Linked DNA regions of Homo sapiens: all the other regions are linked to region 6. Evidence: fine-mapped QTL for protein levels in blood plasma. Region 6 holds a variant in brackets. A gene starts in each other region. All regions are shown on their forward strands. Region 1 holds the start of FETUB (fetuin B). Region 2 holds the start of GPR37 (G protein-coupled receptor 37). Region 3 holds the start of CHI3L1 (chitinase 3 like 1). Region 4 holds the start of CD14 (CD14 molecule). Region 5 holds the start of MEGF9 (multiple EGF like domains 9). Region 6 overlaps TRIB1AL (TRIB1 associated lncRNA). Region 7 holds the start of CEACAM16 (CEA cell adhesion molecule 16, tectorial membrane component).

The links. PIP is the chance, under the fine-mapping model, that this variant and not a neighbour inherited with it causes the effect. The UK Biobank Pharma Proteomics Project read protein levels with antibody pairs (Olink). The fine-mapping took linkage between variants from a reference panel, not from the people measured, so its PIPs are less certain.
Region 1: FETUB starts here. The variant in region 6 is fine-mapped to the plasma level of the FETUB protein (UK Biobank, PIP above 0.99).
Region 2: GPR37 starts here. The variant in region 6 is fine-mapped to the plasma level of the GPR37 protein (UK Biobank, PIP above 0.99).
Region 3: it holds the start of CHI3L1, and the variant in region 6 is fine-mapped to the plasma level of the CHI3L1 protein (UK Biobank, PIP above 0.99).
Region 4: CD14 starts here. The variant in region 6 is fine-mapped to the plasma level of the CD14 protein (UK Biobank, PIP 0.98).
Region 5: MEGF9 starts here. The variant in region 6 is fine-mapped to the plasma level of the MEGF9 protein (UK Biobank, PIP above 0.99).
Region 7: it holds the start of CEACAM16, and the variant in region 6 is fine-mapped to the plasma level of the CEACAM16 protein (UK Biobank, PIP above 0.99).

Annotation. Positions count from the first base shown.
Region 1 is chr3:186,637,979-186,642,042 of GRCh38, forward strand. FETUB (fetuin B) reads left to right here and starts at 2,421. Exons shown (of 7, transcript NM_014375.3): 1 at 2,421-2,707; 2 at 3,052-3,162. The coding sequence starts at 2,483. HRG-AS1 (HRG and FETUB antisense RNA 1) reads right to left here. Exons shown (of 3, transcript NR_187317.1): 2 at 3,976-4,064; 3 at 3,531-3,645.
Region 2 is chr7:124,764,202-124,768,265 of GRCh38, forward strand. GPR37 (G protein-coupled receptor 37) reads right to left here and starts at 1,591. Exons shown (of 2, transcript NM_005302.5): 1 at 1-1,591. The coding sequence starts at 775. RefSeq lists a silencer at 1,603-1,732.
Region 3 is chr1:203,185,382-203,189,436 of GRCh38, forward strand. It overlaps CHI3L1 (chitinase 3 like 1), which reads right to left and starts at 1,323. Exons shown (of 10, transcript NM_001276.4): 1 at 1,218-1,323; 2 at 935-964; 3 at 1-4. The coding sequence starts at 1,242.
Region 4 is chr5:140,631,577-140,635,640 of GRCh38, forward strand. It overlaps CD14 (CD14 molecule), which reads right to left and starts at 1,599. Exons shown (of 2, transcript NM_000591.4): 1 at 1,493-1,599; 2 at 156-1,404. The coding sequence starts at 1,495. The coding sequence ends at 280. It also overlaps a transcript of TMCO6 not described here. RefSeq lists enhancers at 242-743, 472-531, 744-1,243.
Region 5 is chr9:120,712,359-120,716,422 of GRCh38, forward strand. MEGF9 (multiple EGF like domains 9) reads right to left here and starts at 2,112. Exons shown (of 6, transcript NM_001080497.3): 1 at 1,400-2,112. The coding sequence starts at 2,000. RefSeq lists a silencer at 1,800-2,649.
Region 6 is chr8:125,485,781-125,489,844 of GRCh38, forward strand. The region is part of intron 2 of TRIB1AL (TRIB1 associated lncRNA); the gene reads left to right. Among named protein-coding and RNA genes, the nearest start is that of TRIB1AL, 21 kb to the left of the region's middle. The variant C/G (reference allele first, on the strand shown) is at 2,009.
Region 7 is chr19:44,697,021-44,701,084 of GRCh38, forward strand. It overlaps CEACAM16 (CEA cell adhesion molecule 16, tectorial membrane component), which reads left to right and starts at 2,131. Exons shown (of 7, transcript NM_001039213.4): 1 at 2,131-2,240. It overlaps CEACAM16-AS1 (CEACAM16, CEACAM19 and PVR antisense RNA 1), which reads right to left. Exons shown (of 2, transcript NR_186815.1): 2 at 2,018-2,157. RefSeq lists an enhancer at 1-303.

The DNA.
Region 1 (4,064 bases), not on the chromosome of region 6:
AATTGGGGTATGCCATAGTGTGAAACAAAGAATGTAAACTGTGCCTTTCATAATTTTTATGTTAATCACATATTGAAATTATAATATTTTGGATTGACAGGTTAAGCAAAATATTGTTAAAATTAATATCATCTGTTTCTTTTTACTTTTCGAATGCAGATACCAGAAATTTTAAAATTAAATATGTAACTTGCATTGTATTTCTATTAGACACACTGGATTCAACAAAACCTAGATTGATCTATCTCCACAGCCTTGTTCTTCACTCCTGAGCAGAAATTTAACTTCCATGCTGATACTAAAGTTGTTCCCATATGTGATGGGAACCAAACACAAGTGTACCTGGGTTGGGCTTCTAGGGAAAGAGGAACTCTATTCTCTTTCTACAGGCAGGTGCAACTGTGCATGTATACATATGCTGGGAGTGCCATTGTTTTATGAATAAGGAAACAAAATGCTGTGTGGCACACCCAGTGTCACAGGCCCTCTTACCGTGCAGTGGAAGAGGTGGAATTTAAACCCAAGACTGCCTGACACCAAAGGCTGGACTCTTCCCCTGCTTCCTCTCCCAGGGCTCCCATACTCCACAGCCTAGGAGAAGGCCAGCTCAGGTTGTTTGAGACTGGGTTGAAACCCAGGTGCATAAGTGGTGGTGCACGATTTCCATGTTATTGGATCTTTTTATCTGTTTGAGTCCTGCCTTTTATTTTAGTTGCACTCATGGCCTTCACCTATATAAGTCTAATATATTCCTCAGGTCCCAGACCATTCTCCTCCTCTTTGTTCTGCATCCTCAGGCCCCAGATCCTTCTCAACCTCTTTCTGTACGTTGCTCAAGCTCAATGAATGTTTGTCTCCTCACTGGCTGAAGCTAAACCTTTGTTGTGCCCCAGAATCTGAATGTCTGGTTTCTGTACCCATTTTGCTAGTATCGTTCCTATTTGAAAACAATGCCTACAGCCCACATCCACAGAGCTGGGATCTTTAGATTTGGGTTTTTCAATCAATCCTCAAAAACTATTTCTCTCCAGAAATTAATTAGGGCTGTGCCTCAGTTAGTTTTATGTAGTTATAACAGAATATCAGAGACCAGGGAATTTATAATGAACAGAAATTACTTTGGCTCATGGTTTGGGGGGCTGGGAAGTCTAAGATCGAGGGGCTATACCTGCTGAGAGCCTTCATGCTACATCATAACATGGTGGAAGGCATCACACAGGTGAAAGGAAGAGAGAAGGGGACCAAACACATCCTTTTATCAGGAACTCACTTTCAAGATAATGGCATATTCCATTCATGAGGGTGGAGCCCTCATCAGGATAGGATAATCCTCTCAGCATTACACAATAGCCACCACTGTGTACCAGCAAGCACACAGAAGGATTCAGCAGTTCCTAAACTTATTTGAATGCAGAATCCTTGGACAGGGACAGGAAGGAAGAGAAGGGCTAGGAGTAGGGAGAGAGTTAGGGGGTGGTTACTCACCTCATGGACTAGGGCTTTATAGAATGCCCTTCATGATAACCTCTTCTAGAGGCTTCTTTCCCATTTTGTCTCTTTTCTCTCATGACAAACTACTGCTGATATGTGTTTTTTGTTGAAATACAGTTTTTAAAAGATAATTGTCTTTTGTATGGTCCCAATAAGTAGAACCTTTCTGAATCACAAATAGAAGCTAAAAAAAAAAAAAAAAAAAGAAGGCAAGAGTCCCAACCAATGTGTTGCCACCCACCTGCCCTTCAGTATCTTTCTTTTAGCAAGAGTATGGGGCTTTAGTCTCTTAATGAGCTTGCTTCCATACATATGCATAAAAGGAAGAATAGGCTTGAAATACAATGTGAGAACTTTTTATATCTCTTTGACTTTTTCCCCTTAAGTAAAGTCATTGTTTAAAAATAACTTAAATGATGATAAGTAGAACATTTTCCACCCAGATGGCCAAAGTGCTTAAGGAATCTCAACTGTGCTTCTGGCAGATGACTGTGGGGTTCAACTACCTCCCTGATCTAACAAGGGCTTTGCACACAGAGTGTCAGCCAGGAAGTCTGAATTCACCAAGCACCACTGGGACATAAGATAACTATTAGAGTGGCCAAGGAGACCTCCACAGCAAAGGTGTTAGGGGAGAGGGGGAGAATGGGACAGTCCTCCATATTCCTATTCAGGAGGGGACCTGCAAATCAGAATCTAATCATAAGAGCCTTGAACAAATGTTATGATTTCTCAGGAAACAGTTGGGAAACTTAAATTCATTTGTATGTACAGGTGGATATGAGGTTGCTCAAGGGTCTAAGGTTAGAATCATTGGGAAATGCTATCCAAAGTACTGACTTAGGAAAATCCAAGTTCAGAATTCAAGGTGAACTTGGTTAGCCCTTCCAGTTGTAACAAAACCGCTCAAGTCTGCCTTAAAGAGCCTTACAAGCCAGCCAGTCCCTGCAGCTCCACAAACTGACCCATCCTGGGCCTTGTTCTCCACAGAATGGGTCTGCTCCTTCCCCTGGCACTCTGCATCCTAGTCCTGTGCTGCGGAGCAATGTCTCCACCCCAGCTGGCCCTCAACCCCTCGGCTCTGCTCTCCCGGGGCTGCAATGACTCAGATGTGCTGGCAGTTGCAGGCTTTGCCCTGCGGGATATTAACAAAGACAGAAAGGATGGCTATGTGCTGAGACTCAACCGAGTGAACGACGCCCAGGAATACAGACGGGCAAGTAGGGACAGTTCCCACTCTGGGGCAGGGATGTGGGCAAGCTGGAGAGACTGGCCAGGGTGAGGGAACCCAGAGACACCCTGGCAGGTGTTTTCTGTATTGGAAGCCCTGCCGAGAACTCTCTGTTCTCCTCTGCCAGGGTCAGCAACAACGCACTTATTGTTAGTAAAAACAAGTGTTAACAGTGATCCTACTCTGACACTTGTGTCAGATTTAATGGTTTACGGGGAATCTTCACAAATATTCTTTGGCTTTGCCATAAAGCAGGGGTTTTTTTGTGTGGTCTTTCTAGGTTTCTACTTCCTGTGAAATGTATTGCATTTCTCTACCCCTTCCCACAGGGTGGCCTGGGATCTCTGTTCTATCTTACACTGGATGTGCTAGAGACTGACTGCCATGTGCTCAGAAAGAAGGCATGGCAAGACTGTGGAATGAGGATATTTTTTGAATCAGTGAGTGCTTGTTTTTATAAACCATTAAGGGCCCTAGGGAAAGCAAGTAGGTACACTCTTTCTACAGGGTCAAGGGTGCTCAATATCTGTCATCTTTTAAATGGCCCACTTTATAATCTCCTGGCAGGTGCCCATAAGCTTATTCTAATGCTCTAGACAGAACAAAGTTTAATTCATGAGAGGGGTTTCTGAGAAGTCCCATTGGGGTCATGCAGAACAGAATGGAAAAGTTGCCCCAAGTTGTGTTTTTACCTCCAAGACCTTCCGTTAGGCTCTGAACCAGTGTTTCAATTGTGAGAAAAAGACCTGAGGTGTGAATATTCTGGACGTGGGGTTAATGTAGACTGCAGAAGTGATGGAGGTAGAGCTTTGTCTATTTGTTTTATTTTGCTTTGTTTCAATAAACTCCGATGCCAGGTTTGAGGGGAGGAAAATGGATGACTTGCAGTATGAAAGCTCTCAAGGGCGCCGTGTAAGGATTTCCTGAAACCACAGAGCATAATAAAGGGCCTCAGAATTAATCTTCTAAAGATGATCATAGAAGAGACTTGAAAATAGATAATCCATTTCATTTCATTCTTAATTATCCTGGGATGATTTTCAGTAATTGATATAAAACTTTACAGTGTGAGTACAGAATAGTGATGTAAGTGTTTAGAAGAAAACTATTTGATCAAGATATTTTCCTAATCATGTAGCCAATTGGTCAAACTGTACCCAACTTGATTTTGAAAAGTGAATATCCTGTTGTGAATTATATTTGTTATGGTGACACTAGCTACTAAAACACAGACACAAAAACTGTATACTCACTCTAACATGATAGAAGTTCATTTCTCACGCATGTAAAGTTGAAAGTAGAAGTTCCTGATTAGATGGGTGCTTTGCTCCAGGGGTGATTT
Region 2 (4,064 bases), not on the chromosome of region 6:
AGGACTCCTGGGTCAGCGGGTAGAAGGGGTTCTTCAGTCTCACACGCCGGTTCGTGCTGTTTCCCCGGCGGGGACCCCCAGGCTCATGGATTCCTTCACCCAAGGATCCATTCTGGGCCAGCGCCCGGCCCGGGAGTGCAATTGTCCACCCTTCGTGCCCCGCCAGTCCATTGGCCGTCTTGGACAGGGGCTTGTGGTGGGAACCCTGGAGTTTCCCGGCTCTCCTTGGCCAGTAAAAAAGATCGCTGGCTCCGGGGACTGTCTTCACACTCTGCTCCTGGCTACGCCCGGAAATGCCAGCGCCTCTGGGACCCTTCTCTTCCTCCTCTGAGATCTGAAGGAAGAGCTGGAGGGCCGTGGGGTTCCCTCTCCCCAAAGTTTCAGAAGGCTCCTGACCCCGAGCACCTTTCCACCTCCAGGGGCCAGGTGGCCTGGTTGGAGGTCCCGGGGGTCCGGCTGCCGACGCCTCCGCCCCTCTGCCTGCAGCCGGGTCACGGCCCGGGGCCGCCGGCAGGTCCCAGGAGGGTCCCGCAAGAAACGCTGCCCCCTGCTCCTCCCTGGGTGCTCGGGCTCGCAGAACGTCTCTTGCAGAATTTCCCGGTCCCCAGGCGTCCCTGCCGCGGCGCTGGATCACTGTAGGTGCACAGCTCTCCCCCAGACAAGTTTCGTTTCTGGACGCAGGGGCGACCCCGAGGGCAGAAGAGGCAGACACCTTGAGCAGTAGCAGAAGCAGTAGCCGCGACATGCGGGCGAGAAGCGCGCCCGGGGCTCGCATGGCTTGGTGAGGGCACACCCGGCAGCCGCAGCTCCTGCTTAGTTAGGATCGACACCTGCTGCCGAAGTTGCTGCTGAGAGTTAGGCACATGTCACATACTCACCCCCGCCCGGGTAGCGGGGAACCGGAGATTAGGGTGATAGCGGAAGATCGGTCTTGGGGGTCACACACACGCCCCCTATAATCCTTCCTCCTTTGGCATCTTGTGCATTTCTCAGCCAAGTTGAGTCCCAGCAAGGTATGCCCTCCAAGGTTCCTAGAGGGAATAGGCTACTCCCGGTGGCTGACCTTGAAAAGTTGCAATCAACACCTGACTGTTGATTACTGTTGAGACTCGGGGGAGCCCAGACGAAGCCCCACACTCCTCACTGCCTTTGGGTGGGGGTGGTGGCCTTCTTGGTAACAGTTGCTCTGCCTATTTACATCCTTTCGACAGCGTTTGATCCAGTTGCAAGCCGAGGTCTCTAGAGGAAAAGAAAAACAAGTCCCCCTCCCCCAGACGACTCGCAGTCACAACCCCGCTCCCAGCTCGCTGGAAACACGTTGCAAACAGTCCGAAGCAGCGCTGATGCGCCGGCGAAACTCTTGCCCCACCTAACCCCAGCGACTTGCGAGCCTACTGCTGCCGAGGAGAAGCGGGATTCCAACCCCGCGGCCACTGCCAAAGTTGCTTCTCCTCCAGCTCAAAGTTGACGACGGGGCGAAGCAGGCTGCTGGACGGCGTGCCGCCGCAGAGAAGGAAATCGTGGGGAGAAGGGGGAGAAGAGGGCGCCGCTCGTCGGTGGACAGTGCCGCTAGCCGCGGGAGCTAGTCACTGCCACAGCGGGCTCAGCCCGGACGGGAAGGGTGGTGCCTGGAACCGCCGCGGGCCAGGCAGTGCGCGGCCGGGAAGGGGAGGTGGCCCGGCCTCGCCCCCGCGCTCCAGCCGCTGCGCGCGCCCGCGAAGCTCGACTCTCGGCTCGTTGCCTCCTCCCACTCCTTCGCCTCCTCCTCGGAGAGATACTGGTTTGTGGGGAGACGGGATCCCCTGGTGGTTCACCACTCACTAAACCCACACACGTTTCATTCAAGCCATTTGTAGCGGCTTCCACTCGGAGGAGCTGGGAGGGAACAAGGGCGGAGGCGCGGAGCCTGCGCGGCTCGAGGCTAGGGATGGGCGGGACAGGTTAATTCCCCAGCTGTCGAAACCAGCCTGACAGGTCCCCGAGCCCGGGCTAGGGGCGGGTGCGGGGCGGGAGTGGGGGGTGGGGGTGGGAACGGGAATATGAGAGCGGTCGGGGGAGGGAAGAGAGGAGGGTAGCAGGGGAGTGAGCAGCAGGGTCCCCTCCAATCTGTTGCGGCTGATGCGCATGCCCAGGTCTCAGCTCTGGGGGGCGAGGGGCGGGGCGGGGGAGGGGCGGACGGGGGTTGGGCCGCGGGGAGTAAGAAGGTGAAACCTCACCTCCTCAGGTATTCCCTAGAGATAGGAGAGAATGGGAGCTCAGAGGTGTCAGTCATAGAGAATTACCAGTTCCAGGATTGAGATGCAGAGCGAGAAAGCTCAGGATGCACCATTACCTTTAACACTGAGTTGGGAAGCATCCTACCATGGGTTACTTCGTACCACCCAGAGCATAGTGAGGTAGTTGTATTTGATGAAGTAGTGGGAAATGACTGGAGGCAGAAAATTACTCGAACAGCACTCCCAGCACGGCTGTCCATGCCTTTCCAACCTTTCTACTATATCCCACAACCCTGTCAAAACTGTCAGGGCATAGCTAATAAAATAGACAAATTAATGAAGAGAAAATGATAGAGGAAGAAATAAACACATTCTGAATTTTTTTTTTAAACAGAGTCTTGCTGTGTCGCCCAGGCTGGAGTGCAGTGGTGCGATCTCGACTCACTGCAACCTCCGCCTCCCCGGGTTCAAGCGATTCTCCTGCCTCAGCCTCCCAAGTAGCTGAGACTACAGGCACCCGCCACCATGCCCGGCTAATTTTTTTTGTATTTTTAGCAGAGACGGGGTTTCACTATGTTGGCCAGGCTGGTCTTGAGCTCCTGACCTCGTGATCCGCCCGCCTCGGCCTCCCAAAGCGCTGGCATTACAGGCGTGAGCCATCACACCCGGCCTGAATTTTTTTAAAGCAACACATCTAGAGAGGCAGGAGAAAACACAATGGAACATATGATACCAATTGTGGTAAATAGAATAATGCCCCCCCAAAAAAATGTCCGAATCCTAATTCCTAATACCTGTGAGTATGTTACCTTACAGAGCAAAAGGGATTTTGCCAATGCAATTCAGCTAAGACTCTTGAGATGGGGAGAGTATCGTGATTATCCAGGTGGGTACACTATAATCACAAGAGCCCTTACAAATGAGAGGCAGGAGGGTCAGAGTAAAAACAAACACAAGCCAAGTGATGTGGGCAATCTCTGGAAGCTAGAATGGGCATAAAAAAGGATCTACTAGCCCATTTGAGACTTCTGACCTCCATAACTGTAAGATAATGAATGTGTGTTGTTTTAAGCCACAAAATTTATGGTTATTTGTTGCAGTAGCAATAGTAAACTAATACACCATTAAATCTAAAAATGGAGACAACAGGAATAATTGTATAGAAAAACATAAACTACCAAAAATAGTTCAAGAAGAAAATTTTCAGAAACTGTAATCGAACTATAACATTAAAGAAATCAAATCATTCATCAAGATCTACCCAGAGGAAAGTGCTAGACCTTAGCATATCCTGCGGAATAAATATACATTTATACAAAATGTTTTAAAGCTACTCAGTTCATTTTGTGAAGGCAGAATAACCTTAATGTCAAAATCAGACAAAGCCAGAAATAGGAAAAAATATAAGCTAATAGCACACATTCATTTGTACATTAATTCATTCATTTATATACACTAACTCATTCTCTCAAATTCACTACTTCATTAAAGAAATATTCTGCTCAAGTTACTTAGGTCAGAGCAGTGAATAAAATAAAGTTCTGCTCTCACTGAATTTATATTTTCTTGTATACTCATAAAAAGGACAAACTAGGCTTATGTGTATCACCAAGACTGAATCTCAGAAACATAAATGTAAGGGAAAAACGTAGAACTTGATGTGTTAACTATATAATGCTACCATTTGTGTAGCTCTTAAAATGCACATAAAACAATTTGATAATCATACATGGTGTATCATATAAAATATGTGAATGGAATAAATACAGATCAACTTCAGAATATTAGTCACCTCAGGAAATAGAAGAATGGTCATGGGATGGAAGGAAGCTTCTACTCTAACTGTAG
Region 3 (4,055 bases), not on the chromosome of region 6:
GAGCCTGAAGGAGAAGTCTGGGATGGGGCCCGGGCCAGGATTCGGCAAGAGACCTCAGGCTGAGCCCAGAGCTGAGCACCAATGGGGTGTGGGGTTGGGTAGGGAGGAGTGGGGTGCAGATTGTGAGCAAAGTCAGAATTCTTAAATGAAAGGAGCTGGTTCAGGTCCCCCTGCCTCTGGGGAGTTCCCTGACTGGTGAAAATAAGGCCTATTCTGAAAATGCTTAGAAAAGATCCAATGCAGGGGATGAATACGCTACAGGCACTGTGTGGGGGAAGGGTAGGAGCTGGGGAATAAGGATGAAATGGGACTTGGTGCCAGCACAGCAGGCTTCCTGGAAGCAGTGGCTTTGTGGGAGGGGAAGGCCCAAGATAGCCTGTGTCACAGATGGCCCTGGCTTTCAGGCTGGCACCTTTAGTGACCTGCAGTGAGGTCCTTCATCCATGAGGGACTCTGGCCCACCTTTCTCTGCCTCCTGGTGAGAGTGCCTCTAACTTGTAACCCACCCGGAATGGCAGTCCTGTGCTCCCTCGGCATGTCCCCCAGGCTGGGGCACAATATCACAATGGACCAGGAAATCCTTCCTCGCCTCTAATTCTGTTTCTCCTGCTGCAAACAATGTGGGCATCACTCATCCAAGCAGCTACTGGGCAACTGTACTAGCGGCTCCCAGGGGCTGTTAGTCAAAGCCTTCACTGAACCAGGACCTTTTAAAGTTTCTTATTTTGAGAATTTTCACATATACCAAAGAGTATAGCAAAATAAACATCCATATACTCCTCACTCCAGTTTAGCAAACGTGACTATTTCGAAGTCATTGGAAGCACAGAAGAACCTGGCAAAGTGTTCCCTTGGAGCTAAGACCTCCTCCACACCTGCCCTGTGCCCTCGCCACGCCTCTGGACTTAAAAGTGGAGGTGGAGGGATTACTCACAGCACTGGAGCAGCACCAGGACCACAAAGCCTGAAGAGAAATCCAGGATGAGACCCCTGCAAGTGCATCCTGCCCTTCCGCCCTGCTCCCTCCCCCAAGCAACTGAGACCCACCTCCCCCACCCCCACCTCCTGGTTGCAGCCTCAGTCCCTCCCCTGGCTCTGCTTCTCCTCCCCCTCTGCCCACTCCCTTAGTCCCTCACCCAGCAGGCAGATGGCTCTGCGGGCTGTCTGGGCCTGAAAACCCACAACTCTGATGGATTAACCTTGGCTAGCCCAGATACCTGTTTGAGACGCCTTCACACCCATTCTGGCTGCAGCAGAGCAGGGCAGGGTGTGGCCTCTTCCCTTGCCCACGGCTCCTGGTGCCAGCTACCTAGACAGGGCCTCTTCCCCAGGCCCTGTACTTCCTTTATATACCTGTCCCACTCCACTCCCCGACGCGGCAAACCAGCCCTTTTATGGGAACTGAGCTATGTGTCAATGAAGGAATCACGAGGCTGGCAAGTGGAGGCGGGGGAGTACTATGGATTACCAGAGGAGGGTTGAGAAACCGCAGAGTTTTGAAAACTTTGGGTCAGGTCTTCATGAGGCACCTGCCAGCAGAAGAGCCACTAGGGTGATGATGGGGGGCTTCTGGAGATGTGACTCAGCCGCATTTCCCAGCCTTCCTCCCACTCCTGCACCCCACCACTGGCCTTTCTTGCCAGCAATTTCCTGGCTTTTCTGGCAGCCTCTACCTTTGCATCTTCAGCATTCACTCCAGGCCCCTGGCCAGGTGGAAACTGGGCACAATTTAGTTACGTAAGCCACAGTGCCCTAAACAAGGCTGTTGTTTTCTTCCCAGGCTCAGCATTGCCCTGCTTGACCTACCTTCCTACCCTCCCCCTCACACTTTCTGTCTTCAGGCTGGGTAAGGGCCAGAGAGCCTCGGGAGGAAGGAAAGCAAAGAGCCTGAAACTGAGCGCTCCCTTTTGGGCCCGTGTCTTTTTTTTTTTTTTTTTTTTTTTTTTTGCAATTTACATGCTGATTATTTAGAGGGAAAGACAGGGAAATTCCCAAGAATGCTTTAAGCCCCGGTGCTATTTTGCTTCTGTTTTGAAATTCCCATAAAGAGAGAGGATCTTTTGCAAGCTCGGTGCTGCAGTGAGGCACCATGGAGGAAATACAGGCCCTACGGGGCGGCTGCACGAGCATCTGACATCAGTCAGCTCCCCAACTCTCTCAGTGAGGCTTTGGAACCCAAGCCTGATGATACAGCCCCTCTCTAAATCCTTCAGTGATCTCTCATCACTCCTAGGACAAGAACAAAACTTCTTAACGAGGCTCCCTGCCTGATTACGTCCCTGTTTGTGGATACATTTTTTTTTTGGCCAAATATCCAGGACAACTCCATTCTTTGCAGGCTTAACATTAATTAATAGGCAGTGAGTGAAAAGTTCAGAACTCCAAGAGGCAGAATGGGTCCAAGGGCTTCTCAAGAAAGTACCTTTATTTTTCACTAATGTTAGGTAATACTCTAATTTTTCCAGGCTGGTTTTGCAGCTCTCTCGGTGAGGTCTCTCTGCTCTCTCCCTCTTCTCTCCCTCTCTCCCTTTCTCTTCCTTTAAAACTCAGCCAGTGCCTTCCCTTCATTGTAAGAGAGGTGGACAAAAAGTGGCTTGTCCAGAATCACGCTCGGTGAATACTAAAGAGGCATCACTTTTCCTTTTTAAGATGACTGCCTCCTTTTGTACCCAAGATGATTGACAGCAATGACAGTCAATGATAGCTTCTTCTGGTTCATTTGGGGCACTGAGAGGAGGACTTCTAATTTCTAATAGTGATATTATGAAGTGGCATGCAGATGCAAAATTTTTCATCACAGAGCACAGGATGTTAAGAAAACACCTCCTATTTTCACTATCTCCCTTTGTTAAAAATTATTTCATAGGCTTAGATTGGCCCAAGCCTTGTTGTCCTATGCTCCCTCAAGCTCAGTTTATTAATTCCACATGCTCTGCCTGAAGGCAGCTTTGTAACAACAAATGGCCAAGATACCCCCAGGCCTGTGTTAGCAGGATTGGCCAAGGGTCTCATAGGCTCACCACCTCCCAGCCTTATCTCAGGCCATGACCCCCACCCTCCCTATATTCCACTCATGCTTATATGTCTTCTTTTAAATCCTTATATTTGCTCTACTGACTCCCGCCACAGGGCCTTTATATATGACATCCACTTGCCTGTAAATAACGATGAAAGATCTGAGATTTTATGCTACTTGCAAATTAATGACATAACTACAGTTTCGTGGATGTTGGCAGAAGACACGAGACTCCTAGGTCAGAGACAAAGGACTTTATTATCCATGGTACAGCAAGCAGCATGAACTTCATGTTAGGGTCAGTTCCCCTTAGCCCTCAGGTCTCACAAGGGCAGTGTTGGAGGAGCCCAGGTAGATGCCATGAATGCAATGAGTTACATCACAGCAGAGGAATCCCTAGTTTAAGGAACTCAAATCTTTCATGATGAGCAGTAAGCCTTCCTCACCTTGGCCAGCCCAAGATAAGGGAGACATTATCTTTATTACTGGACAGTAAACAAATCTGCCTTTTGGTCTGGAGGGGGGACGCTATTTCTATCTTCCAAGGCTGTTTGCTGTACAAACATCACTAAAAAGATTGCCTAGAACAAAGAAGCCAGTGCCTCTGCACATAAGCTGTGCAGGAAATGCAGGCAACCCATGGAGAATTGCGGTTGGAGAATTGCGGATGGAGAATTGCAGCCTAACACTGCTCTTCTTTGACTGCTTTATTCTTCCTCATCCTTCAGATTGCAGCTCAGGAGTCACCTTGTCTGCAGAAAAGGCAGTCTCCAGGTGACAGAAAACCCGCTATAGGGCTGTCAGAGCACTTTGTACCTCTCTCCTTAACACCTGACTCAGTTATAATTTTATATGTTGTGTGTGGCAGTGGATGTTTTGTTTGCCTCTCTCACTAGACTATAAACTCAGTAAAGGCAACGGCTGGGTCATTTTATCCACCTTTGTATCTATCCCCAGTGCTTGAGACATAGTAGATGCTCAGTAAAGTACTCGTTGAATAAATGAACAAATGATCTCAAAATGGTGCATAACTTCACAC
Region 4 (4,064 bases), not on the chromosome of region 6:
TTCTATCCCCGCAGTTCTTTTCTTGAGGAGGACAGATAGGGTTTCTTAGGGAGTTAGGATGAAGAAAGCCTAAGTATGATGAATTCCCCATCCAGCACTGTGCCCAGCACATAGCAGACATCCAATAAAGGTCTGTTAAATGAATGACACGGACCCGTTGTTTAAGATTTTAATAAAGGTGGGGCAAAGGGTTGAATTGGTCGAAAAGTCCTCAACGTCCTGACGGGACTCCCCTGAAGCCAAGGCAGTTTGAGTCCATTCATTATTCTGTCTTGGATCTTAGGCAAAGCCCCGGGCCCCTTGGAGCAGCACCAGGGTTCCCGACACCCCCACCGACAGGGTCGAACGTGCACAGGCTGGGACCACGCCGGAGTTCATTGAGCCCTCGTGGGGGAGGGCAGTTCCAGGGACCAGGAAGGGATTCCCGTCCAGTGTCAGGTTATCCACCTCGGGCAGCTCGTCAGGCTGCGGCGCCCTGTTCAGTCTGTTGCAGCTGAGATCGAGCACTCTGAGCTTGGCTGGCAGTCCTTTAGGCACCTGTTCCAGCCCAGCGAACGACAGATTGAGGGAGTTCAGGGCGCTGGACCACATGCATCTCGGAGCGCTAGGGTTTACGGTGGCGCGCAGCGAGTTGTGGCTGAGGTCTAGGCTGTGGGGCTGCACACCTGCCGCCGCCAGTGCGGCGCACACGCCTGTGGGCGTCTCCATTCCTGTGTTGCGCAGCGCTAGATTCTGGATGGCCGGGAACTTGTGGGGACAGAGAGCCGCCATCAGTCCGCGTTCGCCCAGTCCAGGATTGTCAGACAGGTCTAGGCTGGTAAGGGCCGGGAAGGCGCGAACCTGTTCGCAGGAAAAGGCAGGCGAGTGTGCTTGGGCAATGCTCAGTACCTTGAGGCCTGGCTTGAGCCACTGCTGCAGCTCGGCGAGCCAAGAACGCCCTGTCGCCCACGACACGTTGCGTAGGCGCAAGCTGGAAAGTGCAAGTCCTGTGGCTTCCAGAGGCAGCGGAGGCATGGTGCCGGTTATCTTTAGGTCCTCGAGCGTCAGTTCCTTGAGGCGGGAGTACGCTAGCACACGCAGGGCGCCTACCAGTAGCTGAGCAGGAACCTGTGCGGCTCCCACTGTGAGCCGCCGCACGCGGAGAGCCTTGACCGTGTCAGCATACTGCCGCGGGTCGGCGTCCGCATCGACGCGCTTTAGAAACGGCTCTAGGTTGAGACCGCCGGCATGGATCTCCACCTCTACTGCAGACACACACTGGAAGGCTTCGGACCAGTCGGGCTGAGGTTCGGAGAAGTTGCAGACGCAGCGGAAATCTTCATCGTCCAGCTCACAAGGTTCTGGCGTGGTCGCAGAGACGTGCACCAGCGGCAGCAGCAGCAGCAACAAGCAGGACGCGCGCTCCTGGGGAGAGAGCAGAGGTCTAGGAGGCCCCATCCAACCCCTGTGGCTCCCGAGTGGCACGCGTTCGACCCCAAGACCCTACACTCACCATGGTCGATAAGTCTTCCGAACCTCTGAGCTCCGGACAGGCTCTGGAAGTGCTTTAGCTTCTTTCCTACACAGCGGCACCCGCCGGCTTCCAGGCTTCACACTTGTGAACTCTTCGGCTGCCTCTGACAGTTTATGTAATCCTGGGATGTCATTCAGTTCCCTCCTCTGTGAACCCTGATCACCTCCCCACCTCTCTTCCTCCGAGCCAGCCCCCTTCCTTTCCTGGAAATATTGCAATGAAGGATGTTTCAGGGAGGGGGACCGTAACAGGAAGGATTCTGCAGGGCATCTAGGGTTCTGTGTCTCCTGGCAGTGTCCTGATGACTCAGGCGCCCCAGGCGGTGAATGCCCTGTTGACTCGGGAGCCTAAGCCTTCTCTGGTGGGTGTGGGAAAAGGATGATCCTCAGTGCCTTAGGCCAGTACCATACTCTGCACTATCCAACCCCCCAATCCCCCTACCTTATATCCCAGAGAATCTACTTGATTCATTTCTTTGACTTCTTCCTTGTCTTGGTTTATGTTGATCTCCTGCCACCAAATCCAAGTCCCTGAATATCCTCAGATATTTAACTGCATGTTTTGTGGAAGAGATTGTGAACCTCATCTGTTGGCACCAAGGGGGGTAGAATTAGGTTCAAGAAAAGGAAGTTGGTCTAAAGAAAAATTCCCCCTTCCTTTTTTTTTCCTTGCTCCTTTGATTAAGTAATAACTTTCTTTCTTTTTTTTTTTTTTTTTTGAGATAGAGTCTTGCTCTGTTGCTCAGGCTGGAGTAGAGTGCCATGATCTCGGCTCACTGCAACCTCCGCCTCCTGGGTTCAAGCAATTCTCTGCCTCAGCCTCCCGAGTAGCTGGGATTACAAGTGCCCACCACCACACCCAGCTAATTTTTGTATTTTTTAGTAGAGACAGGTTTTCATCATCTTGGCCAGGCTGGTCTTGAACTCCTGACCTTGTGATCCACCCGCCTCGGCCTCCCAAAGTGCTGGGATTACAGGCGTGAGCCACTGTGCCTGGCAGTACTAACTTTCTTAAAAGTGGATGTATTTAACAGAGACACATTGGCCAAGTCTCTGGGTCACTTACACTATCCATTTTCTGTCCTGAAATTGTGAAGCAAGGTATTTTGAATCAGTTTTCCCACTTGCACGTTGCTCTCTCCTGCCCTCCCCTCAGTACAATCTCTGTGCCCTAGGAAGGAAGGGATGGGACTATGTTGAATGAGGATTAATTAGTAACTCACCAGTTTCGCAAAAAACAGACAAAAACAGAAAACAAAACAAAATGAAAAAAACAGCAAACAAAACAAAACAAAAAAACAACAAATGTCCCAGAGAATAAGGAGCTACGCATTTACAACAGCCCTCACAGGTCCACATCCCTAGACCTCTGGGGAAAGAACTATATGAAAGTCTTTTTTTTTTTTTTTTTTTTTGAGACTGAGTTTGGCTCTGTTGCCCAGGCTGGAGTGCAGTGGCGTGATCTTGGCTCACTGCAACCTCCGCCTCCCAAGTTCAAGCAATTCTCTTGCCTCAGATTCCTGAGTAGCTGGGATTACAGGAGCCCACCACCATGCCCGGCTAATTTTTGTAGTTTTAGTAGAGACAGAGTTTCACTATGTTGACCAGGCACTCCTGACCTCAGGTGATCCGCCCGCCTTGGCCTCTCAAAGTGCTGGGATTACAGGCGAGAGCCACCACACCCGGCCTGAAAGTCTTTTTTACTTTTATTTATTTATTTGAGACGGAGTTTTGTTCTTGTTGCCCAGGCTGGGCGCGATCTCAGCTCACTGCAATCTCCGCCTCCCAGGTTCCAGCAATTCTCCTGCCTCAGCTTCCCGAGCGGCTGGGATTACAGGCATGTGCCACTACACCCGGCTAATTTTGTATTTTTAGTAGAGATGGGGTTTCTCCATGTTGGTCAGGCTGGTCTCGAACTCCCGACCTCAGGTGATTCACCTGCCTCGGCCTCCCAAAGTGCTGGGATTACAGGCATGAGCCACCGTGCCCGGCAGAAAGTCTTTTTTAAATTCCCACTTCCTCTTTAATTGAGAAAGAAGTAGCTGCAGATTTGTCCCCAATCCAAACAAGAAGGCTCATCACTGCCCCCTGCGGGTCCTGTTGGGCATACCCCAATGCACTGGGCCATGCCCTGGTGCCATGCCAGGCCTCTGTGATATCCCTGAGGACCAAGATATGATTATATCTGACTCAAAGTCAGATAGCCAGTCTTGGAATCCCAGCTTTACGACTGAGGTTATGAGACTTGGGCCTCCCTTCTGTAAAATGGAGATGATAGTATTACCTGTTTGTGAGTAAAGTCTTTGGCACAGAAACACATCTTTTTAGTGTGGTCTTGATGACTAGTCTTCTTTCTCAGAGTCTCTGCTTTCAGAGAACTCAGGCCACTGAAGTCTGACACCTCATCATCTTAGGGGAGGCACTCTGGGTGGGGAGTTCCAAGTTAAGAGGGGCAGTGATGGTTCTGCAAAGATCTCCAACTCACAGCTTGATTCAACAAATGTCTATCATTTGTCTACCGAGTACTAGGGTTGGTAGAAAGCCCTGGGACA
Region 5 (4,064 bases), not on the chromosome of region 6:
AAGAGCTTCAGTGAGCCGCCTAAGCTTACACAGCTAACAAGGGGAAGAGCTAGGATTCAAACCTAAGAATAAACTCCAGAGTCCATACTCTCAACCACTATGCTTCCTGTCTCTCAGTAATATGTCAATCTCTCTATATGAAAGCCAAAAGGGGTTACAGGTAAAACCCAGCTAGCTAATGCATTCCTTGAAGCTGGAAGAGATGCACACTTGGCTTTTTATGGGTGAATAATCCTACTTATGTCATTGCCAAGCTCCAACCCAAGGATCAAGACTGTATTAAGGTTCATAACCATGTGGGAAAATTCTCTACACACTCAATTATAGTCCAAAGTCCATACCTGACTCCACAGTAAATCACTAAGCCTAAGATTTAGGTCAGAGACCCAGCTAGACAAAGGATTTGGACAAACCTCCACCCCAACTCAAAGCAAGACAATTCAGAAACTTTTGTCCAAACGTTCTGACAAAGTAGGCTTTTGTTTTGTTTTGTTTTAGTCCTAGGCCCACTTAAGATTTAAACGGGGAAAGAATACGAGTTGTCTTTAACTTTGCTTGAAGACTTCAGCAAGAAAAGCCTTTTCTACGTGGGCTCAAACAGAAATTGGCATATATCAGCATCAGCAAAGTTGAACATCCTGGCTTAAGGAGACAAAAATAGGCATCCTTGCTTAAATGGTGTATTTGGCCAAACATGTTGACCTTATAATTGTGGAAGAAAAAAATGGTGCGAGGAAGAGATTTAACCTAATTTGTAAATGTGCTCAGCCTAGATACACACCTGTCCCAAATGACCTACTGAATCCACTTATTTGCAGGGACAACATGGATTACAATGCCTTTTTTGTTTTTATTTTTTGCCCTCAAGTGGTCCATACTACTGTTTGTAAACAAAATCCTCTCACTACCTCTCTTCCACCTGTCATACACACACATCTGATATTTACATAAACAAGAAGAAATGAACAGGGAAACTGGAGCTTTGGGAGGAATTCCTTACCCTCAGCTTTTGACCCAGTGGTTGAAGGAGGTACTATGCGGGCTTTCAAACTTCCCCAAATAACCCAGGCAGAGAGGCTGGGTGCGCGAACCCAACCCAAAAGTTTGCGCCCATTCTGGTCTCTGAAAAAGGCCAGAAAGCCCTGTTGGGAAGAAGATGAGATGCCTTCCACCCAGCAGCCACCCCCTCCCGAGGGAGCACAGCCCACGGGGGACAAAAGACTTTCCAGATTGATCGGGGGCGGGAGGGAGACTAGCTGGACCTGGGATCCCCCCTCGGGAGCCGGAACCTGGGGTGTCTTTGGGGTAACAAACGATAAATTATAGGCAAGAGCCCAACCCTAGATTGCCGGGGCTGAGGTGAGGACGGGTCCTGCCCGAGAGGGAGCGCCGGACTCACCTGGAGGAGGCGAAGAGGGGGCCTCGGTGGCAGGTGGGGTGGGGAGGACGCTGCTGTTGCTGCTGCTGGGGAGATCGGGGGTCGGGGTCCGGGGAGTCGTGGGCGCCGGTACGGTGGTCGCTACAGGGGTGGTCGGCGCCGGGCCAGTGGTCGTCGAAAGGGTGGTCGGCGCGGGTCTGGTCGGCGCCTGAGAGGTGGTCGAAGTGCGTTCCGCCGCCGGAGGGGTGGTCGGCGAGGGGCCGAGCGGCGCCTGAAAGGTGGTGGAAGAGGGTCCAGCAGTCGCCCAAAGAGGGGTGGTCTCCGGGGACTGGGCTGGAGAAGTCGCAGCCAGGGGTCGGTGGACGGTGGCGCGCGGGGGCCCGGTCCTCGGGGCCTGGGCCGTGGGAGCCGTCGCCCTAGGGAAGGGGTGGCTGGGCTCGCCCCGCAACCCGGGGCCCGGCGACGCGTCCACCTGCCCCGCGGCCCCGCCGCCACCGGTGACATTCCCCGCCGAGGCGGCTGAGGCGACGGCGGCGGCGGCGGCGGCGGCGGCGCAGCACAACAGGGCGAGGCCGCCCAGGCTCGGCAGGCTCCTCATGGCGCGCTCGGCTCCGCCATTCATTCATTCAGCCAGTCGGTTGGTCAGTCATCTTCTCCTCGTTGCAATCCGACCAAGGAAGCCTCCGCAACCGCCGCCGCCACCGCCACCGGGCGCACCATCGCCACCTCCCTCTGACAGGCGGCCGGCCCCGCGGGCGGGCCCCAGCGCGGAGGGAGCGACCGGACCGAGCGCGGACCGCCCGCCCTCCTCGATTGGCAGCCGCGCCTAACCAATGGGAAGCCACAGTCGCCCACGTGATCCGCCCGCTTCCCGGCCTCTTTGTAGCCCCGTAGGCCAATCAGAGGACGTCCAGGAGAGGGGGCGGTCCGTGAGGCGGGAGAAGGGTGGTGCGAGCCCAGCTCTAGCCCGCCGGGCTCGCGGCGGCCCCGGCTTTGTCTGCCCAAAGAGTGGGGCGCGGGCCTCGGGCACCGGGCGCCGCGGAGCAGACAAAGGATGCGCCCCGCGCGGCAGACGCCGGGCCTAGTCATCTGCTCCACCGGGCTGCGAGCACGAGCGGGGGGTGGAATCAGCACTCGGGAGCATCCCCGCCCTCCTGAACAATGGGGCGCCAGCGCCGCACCCCAGCTCGGGCGGGGACCGCGCGGGAACCCCGCGATGGGAGAGGGCAGCGGCAGCGACGATGTAGAGCTTGGCATGCCCTCTGCTGCTCCAGAGAGCCTGGTCGCAGCCTTGCGAGGTCTCTGCCGCCATTCCCATTTCAGAGATGGGGAAGCTGAGGCCCTTGCTGAGGGCCTCCCTGAACCGAGACCCACGCCCTCACCAGAAACCTGCTGTGGGCCAGGTGTTGTGCCAGACTGGACAAGGGGGCGGGACCGGGCGGTGGAGACCCCTGAGGGCAGAAGGTGCAAGCTTCCTGCGTGGAGGAGACAGGCTCGCAAGCACACTTACCTAAACCCCGGGAAGAATAGGATCAGACAGGGTTGAACCTCAACTTGATGTCTTTTGCTGAATGGTTTTGTGGCCTGAGCGCGGTTTTTTCACCACTAAAATGGAGATGATAGGACACCCCTCACCCCCCACCCCCCTCACAGAGCTGTTGTGAGAATTAAGTCATGGACGTAAAGGGCTTAGCCCAGAGCCTGGCCCACTGTTGTAACCCTCATTAATGCTAACTATTCTCAGCATTTGCGCCAGGGCAAGCCCAGGATTAGAAAGCAGCCCCAGGCCACAGCCCTTCAGTGCCCCCAGAGCCTCCGGCTGGTTGCAGGGGTTGGGGTGGGGCTAATAGCCGAGCTTGACCCTGGATGACACTAAACCCTGAATCAAGCTGGAATTCGGGCACGCAGCCTCGCATCATCCGCCCAGGATCCAGAGCTAGGTCAGGCGCTGCTGCTTCGGCTCAGCAGCTTCCAGAGGAAGCCAGGCAGGGCGGGTTTGTCATCTGATGGGGCTTAATTCAAGCCCCACTGCTAACCCAATCCCGGCCTCCCCTACGTGATGTTTGGCTTTGTGCATGGTTTCCCATTAGTCATTGGTCTTCAACCAGACCAGCAGGATGAGATTTATGTGTGAACCCGTGTATGTTAATTAAAGCATGCATTTATTTTCCTGCATGAGTAGTGGGTGGGGGAGGCTGTGTATGAATGCATAAACATGTTTGTGAGTCTGTGTGTATGAGTGTTGTATGTATCTGTGTGAGTTTATGAGTATGGGAGCTAGTATCTATTTTCATATATTGTGTCTTAATAATCTGTGCATGTGTACTGGTGTGTGTTTTTGTGTATTTTCTGTGTTTTTGCATTTGTGGTTATCTATGGGTGTGTCTTGATAGGTCTATGTATATAAGACAGCGGGAATGAGGGAGAATGTGAGTGTTCTGTCTTCAGGACCAATATTTAGCAAGCACTAACCAAGGTTCTATTTTTACTTTGCTTTGGGAGGGTGGACAGGTCATGCCAGTCCCCCATATTCCCTTGCTGACCCTCCCTGGCCCTTCAAACCCCAACCAAAATGTCACATTCTCTAAAAGACATTCCTGGATTTGAGTGGGAATTAATCTCTCCCTTCTCATTTCCCCACCACCCCTTGTTTATGCATTGATTACAGCCCTGATCTACCAATCTA
Region 6 (4,064 bases):
CCTACCAGAGCTCAGTGGCTTTCTCCCAGCCTCCCATCAGATGCCTGAGGCCCCCTCCCTCCCCCACACCCCTGGGCTCTTTTTCGAAACACATAGAAAAGGGTCAGGAAGATGGGTTCTCTTCGGGCTAGAGATGTTTACTGGGTCAGGCTGATGGATTGCAAAATGGAGATTGGGCAAGGGTACAGAGGGCAGGACCCAGGATCTCAGGGCTATGGTTGGACCCCAGCAGACCCTAAGGCCATGGCCCAGTGCCCTGTCAATCTAGGTGATAGGTGTTCCTCAGATCCCATCACTTCCGAGGGCAGCGAAGCTCTGAGGGCCCCTTAGAGCCCACAGCCCAGGTGGTTGCGGGGCTTGAGGCACATACAGCGACGCCTGGCATCTAGTGAGTGCTCGCCCATGCTGGCTCCCGTCATTACCGAGTTCTCTGGCTGGCATTGCCATCCACCAGCTCCATCAGAACACGGCCCACCTGCACCCGGGCGCTGCCTCCCTCGGTGACTGGTCCCACCACGCACCCACGGGAGGGTAAAACTGGCTCTGCGGACATCCCGACATCCCGACATCCCCACATCCCGAGAGGGGCAGGGGGAGCTCTCAGGCCCTAAAATAGCTGCTGAGCAAGACTTGGCTTCTCTCCTTTGGGTTGAGAGTTTACCCGGCTTTTTGGAGATGCTAGAGTCTACACTGAGCAGGTTTCAGCAGTCAAATGTGTCCCTCCATTCCAGGAACCGAGGTGTTGGAATGGTAGCAATGGACATGGACAAATGGTGGAAGCAGGAGGCGGAAGAGAATCCGCTCAGAAGTTAAGAGGCCTGGACTCTCACACTGATCACGTGACTCGCACCTTCCGTTTCCCAGAATAGCGGCCACAATTCCTGCAGAATCCCTCCTGAGGGGTCTTGGAAAGATGCAAATGATGTAATGAGCAGAAGCAGGGGATTGACTTCCAAGCTCTGCCACTTATTAGCTTTGTGGTCACTTACGCCCTCCGCAAGCCCCAGTGTTTTCACCTGTACAATGGGGGATTACAATACCAACTGCCAGAGTGGATGCAGGTGGCGTGCAGACTCTAATCACAGCAGTGAATGCAAGAAGGAAGGTGGAAGGTGGTGGCGAGGTCCTGAAATGGGCGTCCATGTGGACTTGCACACACCGTGACAACCCCAGAAAATGGTTAGTGTTTTACACTCTTTCATCTGGATTTAAGAGCCAGTCGAGCATGAGGTGTCACTTTGCAGTGTGTTTAGGAGTCTCCCTGGTGAGACTGGTGTAGCACCAGACACTCAGGCAAATGCTGCCCAGTAAACCACAGTGGTCAAGAACGTGGATTCTGGAGCCAGACTGCCTAGGTTCAAATCCCGGCTTTGCCTCTTTCTAGTTGTGTAACATTGAGCAAGTCACTTAACCTGTCTGTATTTTATTTCCTAATCTCTAGAGTGGGGAGAGGAGCAGTGCCCTCCCCTCTCCCATAGGGCTGTTGTGAAAATTGAAATGAGTTAATGAATGTTTCAGAGCACTTGGAGCAGCGAGTTGTATCAGTGCTTCGTAAGTAAAATAAATGACAGGTCATCCTGGGCCCTTCCTCAAGGCCCAGCTCCCTATGTCTAGCGACTATCAGGGGGTGTAGACAAGGAGAAAGTAGCTTTTATTATTTATTTATTTCTGAGACAGAGTCTCACTCTGTTGCCCAGGCTGGAGTGCAGTGGTGTGATTTTGGCTCACTACAACTGCTGCCTCCCGGGTTCAAGCGATTCTCCTGCCTCAGCCTCCTGAGTAGCTGGGATTACAGGCATGCGCCACCACACCTAGCTAATTTTTTTTGTATTTTTAGTAGAGACGGGGTTGCATCGTATTGGCTGGGCTGGTCTTGAACTCCTGACCTCAAGTGATCTGCCCACCTCGGCCTCCCAAAGTGCTAGGATTATAGGCACGAGCCATGGCACCCGGACTTATTTTTTATTTTTATTTTTGTAGAGATGGGGATCTCACTGTATTGCCCAGG[C/G]TGGTCTCAAACTCCTATCCTCAAATGATCCTTCTGCCTCGACCTCCCAAACTTGGGATTACAGGCGTGAGCCACTGTGCCTGGCCAGAAAGCAGGCATTTAATCACTGTTATCCTCAAATGGTTAGGTGAGAAAAAGGGAGGAAGGTAGAAATGGCTTGCCTACTTTGGGCTTTAAAGAAGTGAGGTCTGTTTCCTGCACCTACCACTTTGGGAAATATTTGTTTTTTGGCAGCAGGTAACCAGAAACCAGAGCTGGTCAAACTGGGGCACACACATACACACCACCCTGCCCCAATCTCTGGTTTAAGCTCTTCTGGCCATCTGTTCAGGCAGGGTGGGAAAACTTTCACAAAGCAGGCAGGTCCCAGGCCCCCCAGGCCCCAGGGGCTGGCCTTAGAGTCCAAAGACCTGATTCTGGTTCTAGGCTAGCTTTGGTCCTGAGACAATGTCCTCAAAGCTCTCTGAGCTTCCGTCTGCCCTTTGGTAAAATGGGGATTGTCATTAACACACCATTGGAGATAACAGATGCAAACCTGTTGTAAACAGGAAATCTCAGTATGCTCAGAACGGTGGGTAAGGGGTTATCGGTGAGTAGAACTTCCAGGGCACCAGGCAACTGTCCGCTGTGAGATTTCTGCACAGCCTGGCCTCTGGAGGTGTCCAAACCTTCAGCTGCTGGTGTTGAGGCTCAGGAAGCCTGGCCTCTGGAGGTGTCCAAACCTTCAGCTGCTGGTGTTGAGGCTCAGGAAAACCTCACATGCTGGAACTTGGCAGGCAGATGACTGGCCATGGGCATTGTTGGGTGAGGCCATACCCATGATCTGCAGTCAGGAGACCTGAGTTCTTTTCTGGATCCTGCCACTGTGTGGCTTTGGGCAGGTCACTTCTTTGAGCCCCATCTCATCTTCTGCGAAATGAGAGGATGGTGGCAGGAAGCAATGCAGTCTGGCAAGATATAGGCCAACGAGGTAATATATGTGAAATAATTTTGCAAACCATAGGGGTTACAGCATGGAAATAGCCCTGGTCAGGAGTTTGGGCTCTAGCCCTGCCTCTGGAGCAAGCATGATGTGTGACTTTGGGCAAGTCACTGCTCCTCTCTGAGCCTCATTTTCTTCATCTGTAAACTGAGAGTCTGGGACTATATCAGTAGTTCCCAAACTGGATACACGTTAGAATCAACCTGGGCCAGGTGCGGTGGCTCACACCTGTAATCCCAGCACTTTGGGAGGCTGAGGTGGGTGGATCACTTGAGTGTAGGAGTTTGAGATCAGCCTGGGTAACATGGCGAAACCTTGTCTCTGCAAAAAATACAAAAATTAGCCAGGCATGGTGGTACTCGCCTGTAGCCCCAGCTAATTGGGAGGCTGAGGTGGGAAGATGGCTTGAGCCCAGGAGGCCAAGCCTGCAGTGAGCCATGATGCACCACTGTACTCTAGCTTGGGCAACACAGTGAGACCCTGTCTGAAAAAAAAAAAAAAAATCAACCTGAGAGGATGGATATAAGAGATGCTGATGCCCCCACTCCATCCCAGAACCACTTAATCAGAATATCTGGGGTGGGGCATTTTATAAGCTACCCAGGTGTTGCCAGTGTATAACCAGGATTGGGGATATCTGGTCCAGGTGATACAGGAGGTTCCTTTTGGCTTGAGCTTGTTTGATTTCTAGGAAGTTCTTGGGGTATAGAGTTCACAGATGCTTCCAACACTGGGGCCACCATCCTCCTCCCTGCTGAGAATGATAAATTCCTGCCCAACCGTGGAGCCTATGATCTCAACTCTGGCTGTGCACTAGAATTTCCTAGGAAGCTTTTAAAAACCTTCCATGACTCAACCCCACCCAAAGCAAGTTAATACAATCTTTGCGGATGGTTCAGCCCTAGTTTGAAAAAGCTCCCCAGGTGATTCTAATGTGCAAAGTGGCGAACCACTGCTTTGAGAACAGCCAATGAGCCAAGAAAACAGACAGCCCTCCGCCTGGCCCCTTCCTTTTCCTCCTCAGAATGCTCATAGTCTGATGTGGGTTGTCGACTTCCTTACCCTGGACAGTGT
Region 7 (4,064 bases), not on the chromosome of region 6:
GCTTTATTTTTCTCCACAGCATTGTCCCCACCTGTTCTAACACTGCTCATGTTTGTATTCGTCTATTAACTGTCTCCCCAATCAATAGGTCAGCTCTGTGTCTACCGTATTCACGGCTGTAACCCCACAGCGCCTAGCGCAGTGCCCGGCACATAGTTGGTGCTCCATAAACATTTGTCAAATGGTGGAGGAACAACGACCACTGTGCCCCCAGTACGTGCTCTGAGGCAGGCCCGGCACGGAACACTCCATGTGCCTATTTTGATCCTCAGAAGAGTCCCAGGGAAGTCAATGTCATGAACACCCCCCACCCACTGCACAAACAGGAAAAAGCCCCTGCCCACAAGAACCCCGTCTGCTTTCTGCGCAGCCCGGCGGCGCACAGCAGGTGCTAAAGAGCCTGCAGCTCTTGACTGAACCAAGGATCTGGGCTCACAGCCGGGAGCACCAGAGGAGGGGCCAGGGAGGTGGAGGATGGGGGCAGACTAGGAAGGGTGGATGTGACGATAGAGGGCCTCTAGAGCCCGGCCTGGTCACACTCCGCAGGCAGACAGCAGATCACCAGGAACCTGAGCCTCTCTGAAGACTCCTCTCTCTGTGTCATCCACACCTGGTGTCCAGTTCCACAAACATGCTGTGAGCCTCTGCTCTGTGCCAGGTGATTTGCTGGGCAGTGCTGGGGACACAGTGGTGACAGCCCAGCCGTGCCCAGCTGAGGCTCCCAGGCCAGTGGGGGAAAAAGACCCAGCCCCAGACAGCGAGAACCCAAGGCAGTCAGGGCTGAGACAGGGAATTCCAGGCCCTGAAGTCCAGGAGGGCTTCCTGGAGGAGAGGGTTTGGGGAAGGCAGTGGAATAGAGCAGAGGGAAGCAGGGATATTCTGGGTAGAGTGCAAGTGAAACAGAAGAACTGAAGCAGAGGGTTCCCGGAAGCAAGTGGTATTCTATGTAGCTGGTCAGGTGGGCAGGAGTCAGGCCGGGCAGGGCCTCCTGGGCTACAGTGAGGAACCTGGGCTTCCTCCCAAGGGCACTGGGGAGCCACAGCAGGTTCTGAGCACGGAGGGGCAGAGGCAGGTTTTTGTTTTGGAAAGAGCCTCTGTCTGCCATGTGGAGGGGCAATGGGAGTCGGGGAGACCAGGGCCAGAGACTAGGGAGGAGGCTGGTGGGGAGACAGGAGGACCCAGGCAAGGTGGGGTGGTGGAGTGGTCACCTAGACCAGGGCAGGGGCTTCAGGGAGGGAGAGAAGATATACGTAGAGTCAGTTGCCAGAAGGGGTGGCGTGTTCGGGGAGTAGGGGGAGGCATCAGGGATGAGGCCCCAGGTCTCTTTTCCCAGCGATGAGGTGGGTAGTGGCGCCTTCCCTGATAAGGGCACCAGGGGAAGATACACTTCTGGGGGAAGATGCCAAGGTCAGTTTGGGACAAGGTGAGTGAGAGGTGCCCAGGGACATCAGGGAGGCATCCTGATTGATACTGGGATGAGGTCCCAGTGCTCTGGGCCAGGACGCAGAAGAGTGAGGTGAGGTCACAGGTGGGGAGAGGGGAGCAGGAGGCGCCAGGACATCCTCTGTGCCTCTCACCTGGCCTCACCCGCACCTCCTCAGGGCCTTCTCCCCCTTGTTAGAGCCCTGCCCCACGAGGGCAGCCCAGGACACAGTGCTGGAGGCAAACCAGGACAGGTGAGCACAGGTGTGGCCCCCTGCCCGGAAGCAGGCTGCAGAGGCCTCAGAGGAACCAGGACTCAGAAGCCATCAGGATGCAGGTCATAAGAACACAGCTATCAGCAGCTCTGGCACCACAACCCCCTCGGCTCCTGCCCAGCATCATCTCAGAGACACCTTCCCTGTTACCCTCCCTCCACCCCAATTTAAAGTAGCAAACCAGGCCAGGGGCAGTGGCTCATGGCTGTAATCCCAGCACTTTGGGAGGCCAAGGTGGGAAGATCACTTGAGGCCAAGAGTTTGAGACCAGGCAGAGCAACATAGCGAGATCCCATCTCTACAAAAAATAAAATGGCAAATCCCCTTTCTGACTTTATTTTTCAATCTGACGTGGAAGATATTTACCTTTCCTTTATTTACTCCGCAAATGTCGGCCCCCTGAGGGCAGGGATTTCATCCGTCTTGTGCACGGCTGCATCCTCAGCGCCTAGAACAGCACCTGGCAAACAATAGGTGCTCATTCAGTATTTGTCCAATAAGTGAATGAGTGATTTACTGAGCATTTACTCTGCGCCAGTCGTGGTAAGTACTGTACTTCACATGTGTATCTACTTAATCCTTTCAACAGCCCTGTGATGTGAGTACTATTGTTTTCCCTATTTTACAAATAAGGAAACTGAGGCTTGGCAGAGTCCATAAATTGCCCAGGGTCCTGGAGGTAGGAAACAGTGGAACTATGTCCAGAGCCTATACTTTTTTTTTTTTGAGATGGAGTTTCACTCTTTTGCCCAGGGTTCAAGCAATTCTCCTGCTTCAGCCTCCCAAGTAGCTGGGATTACAGGTGCCCGCGACCACACCCAGCTAATTTTTGTATTTTTAGTAGAGACAGGGTTTCACCATGCTGGCCAGGCTGGTCTTGAACTCCTGACCTCAGTTGATCCACCCACCTCGGCCTCCCAAAGTGCTAGGACTACAGGCATGAGCCACTGCGTCCGGCCATGAGCCACCACGCCCGGCCAGAGCCTATACTTTTAATAACAGGCATACCAATCAGACCCACGTCCACCAGGCTCTGGCTTAAATCCCTGACTTGTAGCCTCTCACTAACTGCTGTCAACAAACCTGAAGTAGGGTCCATATCATCTCTATTTTTTTGTTTGTTTTTGAAATGGAGTCTTGCTCTGTCACCCAGGCTGGAGTGCAGTGGCAGGATCTCGGCTCACTGCAACCTCTACCTCCTGGATTCAAGCGATTCTCCTACCTCAGCCTCCCTAGTAGCTGGGATTACAGGCATGTGCCACCATGACCGGCTAACTTTTATTTTTTGTTTTTGCTTTTGTTTTTTGAGATAGAGTCTCACTCTGTCACCCAGGCTGGAGTGCAGTGGTGTGATCTCAGCTCGCTGCAACCTCCACCTCCTGGGTTCAAGAGATTCTCCTGCCTCAGCCTCTCGAGTAGCTGGGACTACAGGTGCACACCACCACACCCAGCTAATTTTTTATATTTTTAGTACATACGAGGTTTCACCATATTGGCCAGGCTGGTCTCGAACTCCTGACCTCGTGAGCCACCTGCCTTGGCCTCCCAAAGTGTTGGGATTACAGGCGTTAGCCACCACACCCAGCTAACTTATATTTTTAATAGAGACGGGGTTTCGCCATGTTGGTCAGGCTGGTTGCAAACTCCTCACCTCAGGTGATCTGCCCATCTCAGCCTCCCAAAGTGCTGGGACTACAGGCACCTGCCACCACGCCTGGCTATTTTTATTATTATTATTTTTAGTAGAGATGGGGTTTCGCCATGTTGGCCAGGCTGATCTCGAACTCCTGACCTCAAATGATCCGCCTGCCTTGGCCTCCCGAAGTGCTGGGATGACAGGCATGAGCCAGTGCACCCGGCCATCATCTCTATTTATCAGAATAATAAATGGAGACTCAACAAGGGACTGTCCCCAGCCCCACTTTGGGTAAGTGCAGAGCTGGTGTCAAAACTCAGCTCTCCTTGGCCCCAAAGCCTCCGAATACGCCCATTTGACAGAGAGGGGAAAACAAGGCCTCCGAAGTGGGAGAAAGAGAATGTGAACTTCTGAGCACTTTGCAGGAAGCCAACAAGAAGGAGAGCCCCAAAGAAAGCATGTGGCCATACAGTTTCCTGCCCTTCTGTCTGGGTTTGCACACAGAGCAGGGCTCAAATCCCCTCTCCCTGCAGGAACCCGGACAAGTGGGAGTCCCCACCTAGCTCATCTCCATCTGCAAAGGGGGGTCCTAAAGGTGCCCACTTTACAGGGTTGTTTTGCCATCCGCTGAGACAACACCTGTAGGTCCCCTGCACTGGGTGGGGCTGGGAAAGGTGCAGTCACCTTTTACTGATTTTCTTCCTTGGTGACTCCCAGGCTCTCTGAGGAGG